2 separate regions of the Homo sapiens genome follow, and region 2 is linked to region 1. The links come from fine-mapping of genetic effects on gene expression. Tissue or cell type: skeletal muscle. Region 1 holds a variant in brackets; the other region holds the start of a gene. All regions are shown on one strand. Distances are between the middles of the regions.

What was found. PIP is the estimated chance that this variant, and not a neighbour inherited with it, causes the effect.
Region 2: it holds the start of SLC9D1, and the variant in region 1 is fine-mapped to the expression of SLC9D1 in skeletal muscle (FUSION, PIP 0.95).

The regions. Positions count from the first base shown.
Region 1 is chr13:113,516,015-113,518,768 of GRCh38, forward strand. All of the region lies in intron 7 of SLC9D1 (solute carrier family 9 member D1), which reads left to right. Among named protein-coding and RNA genes, the nearest start is that of SLC9D1, 26 kb to the left of the region's middle. The variant C/T (reference allele first, on the strand shown) is at 1,460.
Region 2 is chr13:113,489,538-113,492,291 of GRCh38, forward strand. It overlaps SLC9D1 (solute carrier family 9 member D1), which reads left to right and starts at 1,484. Exons shown (of 13, transcript NM_017905.6): 1 at 1,484-1,736. It overlaps DCUN1D2 (defective in cullin neddylation 1 domain containing 2), which reads right to left and starts at 1,174. Exons shown (of 7, transcript NM_001014283.2): 1 at 1,130-1,174. The coding sequence starts at 1,132. RefSeq lists an enhancer at 345-644 and a silencer at 875-1,794.

The sequences.
Region 1 (2,754 bases):
CATATGAGATAATCTCATCTGCTTACAGGATCATTAAATTCATTCTTCCCAATTTGGACACCAGCCTTGTGTCTTAGAGATGCACATTGAAAGGTATGGTTAAGAGGATGACTGGGGTTTCCCTTAGGAGGGTAGAGTGGAGGTTAGTGTATGAAACAAGGTTAGTCTGCCTGATCATGGAAACTGGATTATTTGTTCCTTGAGATGCACTGTATTTTTCTTTCTACTTTTGCATATGCTTGAAATTTTATTAGAAATTCCTATATATGTCCAGGCATGGTGGCTCATGCCTGTAATCCCAGCACTTTGGGAGGCCAAGGCAGGTGGATCACATCAGGTCAGGAGTTCAAGACCGTCCTGGCCAACATGGCAAAACCTCATCTCTACTGAAAATATAAAAATTAGCCGGGCATGGTGGCACACGCCTGTAATCCCCAGCTACTCGGGAGGCTGAGGCACAAGAATTGCTTGAACCCTGGAGGCGGAGCTTCCAGTGAGCTGAGTTCACACCACTGCACTCCAGCCTGGGCCACAGAGTGAGACTCCATCTCAAAAAAAAAAAAAAGAAAAGAAAAGAAAAGAAATTTGTATATAGCCCAAACTTAAGACTGTCTCACCAGAGCTTAAAGGTGTTAGCTCTGGCCACAGCAGCGGCCTCAGTCACTCTTCTTACATGGATTTTGATGCAAATTCTGCTCCTTTTCTATTTCTCAAGATTTCTAGCCCCTTCGAGGGGCCCAACCCTCGAAGGAGTCCAGTAAATGTGTAACTCCACTCTGCCTTGCCTGTGCTGAAAACACATAGAAAGAGGAACAGAGGAGGCAGGCACCTGGAGGTCAGAATGGCAGCTGGATTGTGAAGAAGGTGTGGTTTGCATGCCTGGCAGTGATGAGCTTCTTAGGCTTCATTCTTAACCTCGGAGCAAGACTCATTGTCCAGCCACAAGCAGCGTTGGCCTCCAGAGGCCTCCGTGGGCAGGGCCTGCCCTGTGAAACTCAGGTCTGCAAGAGAACCTTGAGACCAGGTGCCGTGGGCTGGCTGGTTCACAAAGGAAGACGGGCTCTATCCATTTCCAGGAAGAGCGCCCTTGTCTCCCTGGGAGTAATGTATGTGGGACCAGGCAAGAGGCCAGGAGTGGTGAGGAAACATTCCCTTCTTGTGAAAATGCAAGCGAGGGGAAAGGAGGTTTCCCCCACAATGTGCTAGAATATTCATGCAGCCTTTGTTGTTGTTGTTGAGGAGGAGTCTCGCTCTGTCGCCCAGGCTGGAGTGCAACGGCACAATTTCAGCTCACTGCAAGTTCCACCTCCCGGGTTCACGCCATTCTCCTGCCTCAGCCTCCCGAGTAGCTGGGACTACAGGCGCCCGCCACCACGCCCGGCTAATTCTATTTTTAGTAGAGACGGGGTTTCACCGTGTTAGCCAGGATGGTCTCGATCTCCTGACCTCGTGATCCGCC[C/T]GCCTTGGCCTCCCAAAGTGCTGGGATTACATGCAGCCATTTTTGTATTAGTGAATAAATGGAATTCCTGAACGTCCACCAAGAGATGAATGGATAAACTGTGGTCTGTTCTACAACAGTTTTAAAAATGAATCAGAGCTTTGTGCATCAACATGGATAATTTGCAGATATAGTGGTGGTCAAAAACGGCAAGTCGCAGAAATGTTGATTCTGTGAAGTTTAATATTACAAAATAATAAACTCAGTGTTGCCTCCAGATCTATAGGTGTTAACATTAAGTAGAAATGCATTCAAGGGGATGATGAACTTTCAGAATAAGGTCAAGTGGGGACTGTGGGTGGAGGGAAGAGGGGCCCCACAGCACGGGGTTTACAGACCTCCTTGTGGGGAGTGTGGGTGGAGGGAAGAGGGGCCCCACAGCAAGGGGTTTACAGAGCTCCTTGGCGGCACCCTTAGGACTTTATTTCTTTAAAAATCTGAAGCAAATATGTTACAGGTTTAAAATTTAGCAAATTCCTTAGTGGGTATGTGAGCATTTGATATACTCCTTGTTCTCTGTATATTTAAACTGTTTAATAAAAGGAATGGAAAACAGGAAGAAATCAAAATGCTTATAGTAGTGATAAGCACAAAAAGGTAGTGCAGATTTCAGAAAGATGACAATAGTGAAAGTGTTGAGAAATTAGAGAAATTGTAATATTTCAGTGTGGTAATATTTTCATCTTGTCTGGTTGCACTGCTGAAGTTTTGTGCCCGTCACTACTCCGAGCACTTGTCTTCCTCCTGCAGCCCCGTGAAGTCCCTCGTGAGCAGTGTTTCCTGCGCAGGCCCTGTGGGTGTGGACTCGGGGTCCTGCATCAGGGACCTTGGTGAAGACCTGGTCTCTGCTCTGTGGTGCCCATGGCCTAGCGGGCAACAGTTGAGTGTCTGTTGATTTCAGCCAGTTCACTATGATCGGTGCAAAGGAAGAGAACAAAATATTTAAAACATTTACAAAATGCTGGCAGTAATATCATCAAAGGCTATCTCTAAAAAGTGAGATGTAGTGAGAGATTTTGTTTCTTTTAAATAGAAGGGGCGCAGGTGTGAACGTGTTATCTGCGGAAGATGTGGGGTGGCCGTGGCTCCTTTGCATCCCACAGACTCATCTCGCAGCCTCCCTCCCGTCTTGCGAAGGCTGCGAGATGAAGAGAGATGCGGTGACCACAAGCCCATGCGAGCCTTAGGGTGAAAATCGCTGATCTGTGAAGCCTCCGCATGGACAATATTAGTTGGGAGGCAATTTTATCATCTCC
Region 2 (2,754 bases), 26 kb before region 1:
ACCAGCCCCCTCTCAGTCTCCTTTGTGGCTCTTCTCCCATCCTGAAGCTTGTCCTCACCCTCCACTCCCCTCTACACGTTACCGTGTCCCTTCTCCGGTGGCTCTCTGTGCCTTAGCCAGGACAATCTTTCAGCTCCTATACGTCATCATCGCCTACCACTAAGGGTCTGTGCATTCTGTTTCTTCTGCCTGGAGCCGCACACGGCTGGCTGCCCCGGAACCTCACTTTTTCTCTGGCTAATTTCCAGAGAAATTCTCCACAGTTCAACTCACACCCTCAGCATCTGACACCACTCCCACAGCCGCATCCTACAAGTTCCTGGAACCCGTGCCTTAGCCTTTGTCCCAACTGTGGTCAAACAATTGTGCATCTGGTGCCTGTCTCCCCTGCTGGGGCATCAACTCCCTCAACGCCAAGATCATGCCTGGCCCAGCACCAGTCACACCCAGCAGCACCTTGCTGGCCTCTGAACCGATGTGGACTGAATAAATCCCATCCATCACCATTTCCACCACATTTCAAAGTAACTGATGTGCACCTCCAGCAGCCTCCCTCCTGCGCTGCGGAACTCTACCAGCTCCACAGATGCACACCTACAGCCACGCTACAGCTCCCGGCTAGAGCCCGCGCTAGGGCCCCGCTGTGCCTCTCCCTCCCCTCCCGGCAGCAGGGCCTCCCCCGCGAATCTGAGCTTCTCGCGGATTCCTTCCTTGCGCTGTTTTGGTCAACAGCCTCAGCATCTGCACAGACGCCCGCAGGAGCAGCCGAGCCCTCGCCCGCCTCGACTGCCCGTTTCGAAGCCGCCCTGGGAAGCCCCCGGCCTGGGTTCCCGCTCGGCCCCGGCCCCTGCCCCAAGGCCCCTACAGTTCCTCCCGGCCCCCGCCCTCCGCTCACTCCCGGTCGTCCCTCGCGGCTCCGGGTCAAACCCGCGCTCCCCGCGGTCCCGCGCCTCCGACGCCACCGCTCCGGCTCGCGGGCCCGCGGCGCGTTCCTCCCTCGGATCCACGCGGAACGCCCCGCGCAGCTCGCTGGGCTCGGCCTCCCACATCCAGCGCGCCGCCTGCGCCGACCTTGGGGCCCGACCCCGACCCCGACCCCGACGGGCAGAGGCGACGCCGGGCCACCTACCATCTCCCCCGCGCCGCCCGCTTCTGGCCGGCCCCGGCCTTCTGCGCAGGCGCGGCGGCGGCTCCGCCCTCGTCCTCGGACGGCCGCGGCCCTCGGCTCCGGGGCAGTGCCGGGAGCCGGCCGCGGGGACTCCCACTCCCGGCATGCTCAGCGCCGCCCGGGGGCCCACGGGAGCTCGCGCCCCACAGCCCCTGCGCGTCCAGCCCTCTGCGAGGGCCTTGGCTCGCCCCTGCGGGGTCCAACGCCAGCCTGCGGCTGCCAGGCCCCACGCCGGCCAGGAAGTGCTCGCCGCCCGCGGCCGACGGGACCCGCCCACGCCCCGCCTCTTAAAGGGGGCAGTGACTGCGGCTGGGCGGGAGTCCGGGTCGGCTTGGCTGAGCGGGGGCGGTGCTGGGCAGGGCGGCGGCCGCTCCCTCCCGGACTCCCGGCCTCCCGGCCTCCCTGGTCCCGCCTGGGAAGGGATGCAAGGAAGCCCTCCGGCGCTGCGCTCCGAGGCGGGAGACAGCGTCCCCCTCCGCCCCTCGGGTCCTGGCGCCTCAGAGCCCGGCCCAGGCCGCGGAACGGTGATGCTCGGGCCGGACGGGCGGGCGCGGATCCCTGCGTCCCGGTGAGCACCAGGCCCGTCCATCCGGGGCTCTTTCCCGGGGTCCCCTTCCTTCCCTCCCTCCCTGGGGCTCCCCTCCCCTCTCTCCCTCCCCGGGGCTCACCTTCCCTTCTTCCCTTCCCAAGGGTCCCCTTCCTTCCTTCCCTCCCTCCCTGGGGCTCCCCTCTCTCCCTCCCCGGGGCTCCCATTCCCTTCTTCCCTTCCCAGGGGTCCCCTTCCTTCCTTCCCTCCCTCCCTGGGGCTCCCCTCCTCTCTCTCCCTCCCTGGGGCTCACCTCCCCTCTCTCTCTCCTCGGGGCTCCCCTTTTCTTGCAGGTATTGTCTCCCGGGGTCGGGTGGTCTGTGTGGCCTGGGGTCCCGCTCCTCCAGGCCTTGCCTAGGCGCTCTTCGCTGAGGCCCACGTTCTAACCTGGAATGGAACCTGCGTTCCCACCCTGGCCGCCCGGGTGGACTCGGGGCCTCCAGGGCCGGCCGCAGAGATGCAGCCCTGTCCCTGGCCCCCCTCCTGTGACTCCTAACGGCTCCTCACGGTGTCCATGACCCAGGGTGTGGACGCCTGCGCGGGGGAAGCAAGACCGCTGCGTATCGGGTCCCTATTCACTGCCTGTTTTTCTGATTATTCTGTCTTCCAAATTTATCTTATTTACCGGCTTTTTCAAAAGGAGTGTCTTAATGATTGGATTACTTGTGAAATATTTGTAGTTTTTTTCTCCTACAGGCTTGACTTAAATATTCTAAAGCTTTTTTGTGGTTGTTGAGACAGAGTTTTGCTGTCGCCCAGGCTGGAGTGCAGTGGCTGGTCAAGGCTCAAGCGATTCTCCCGCCTCAGCCTCCCCAGGAGCTGGGGCCACAGGGAGCATCACGCCCGGCTAATTATTTCATTTTTAATAGAGACAGGGTCTTGCTGTGTTGCCCAGGATGATCTCCAACTCCTGACCTCAAGCAGTTCGCCCACCTCAGCCTCCCAGAGCGCTGGGAATACAGATAATTGTGTCGTAATACAGCAGTGGCATTAACCACCG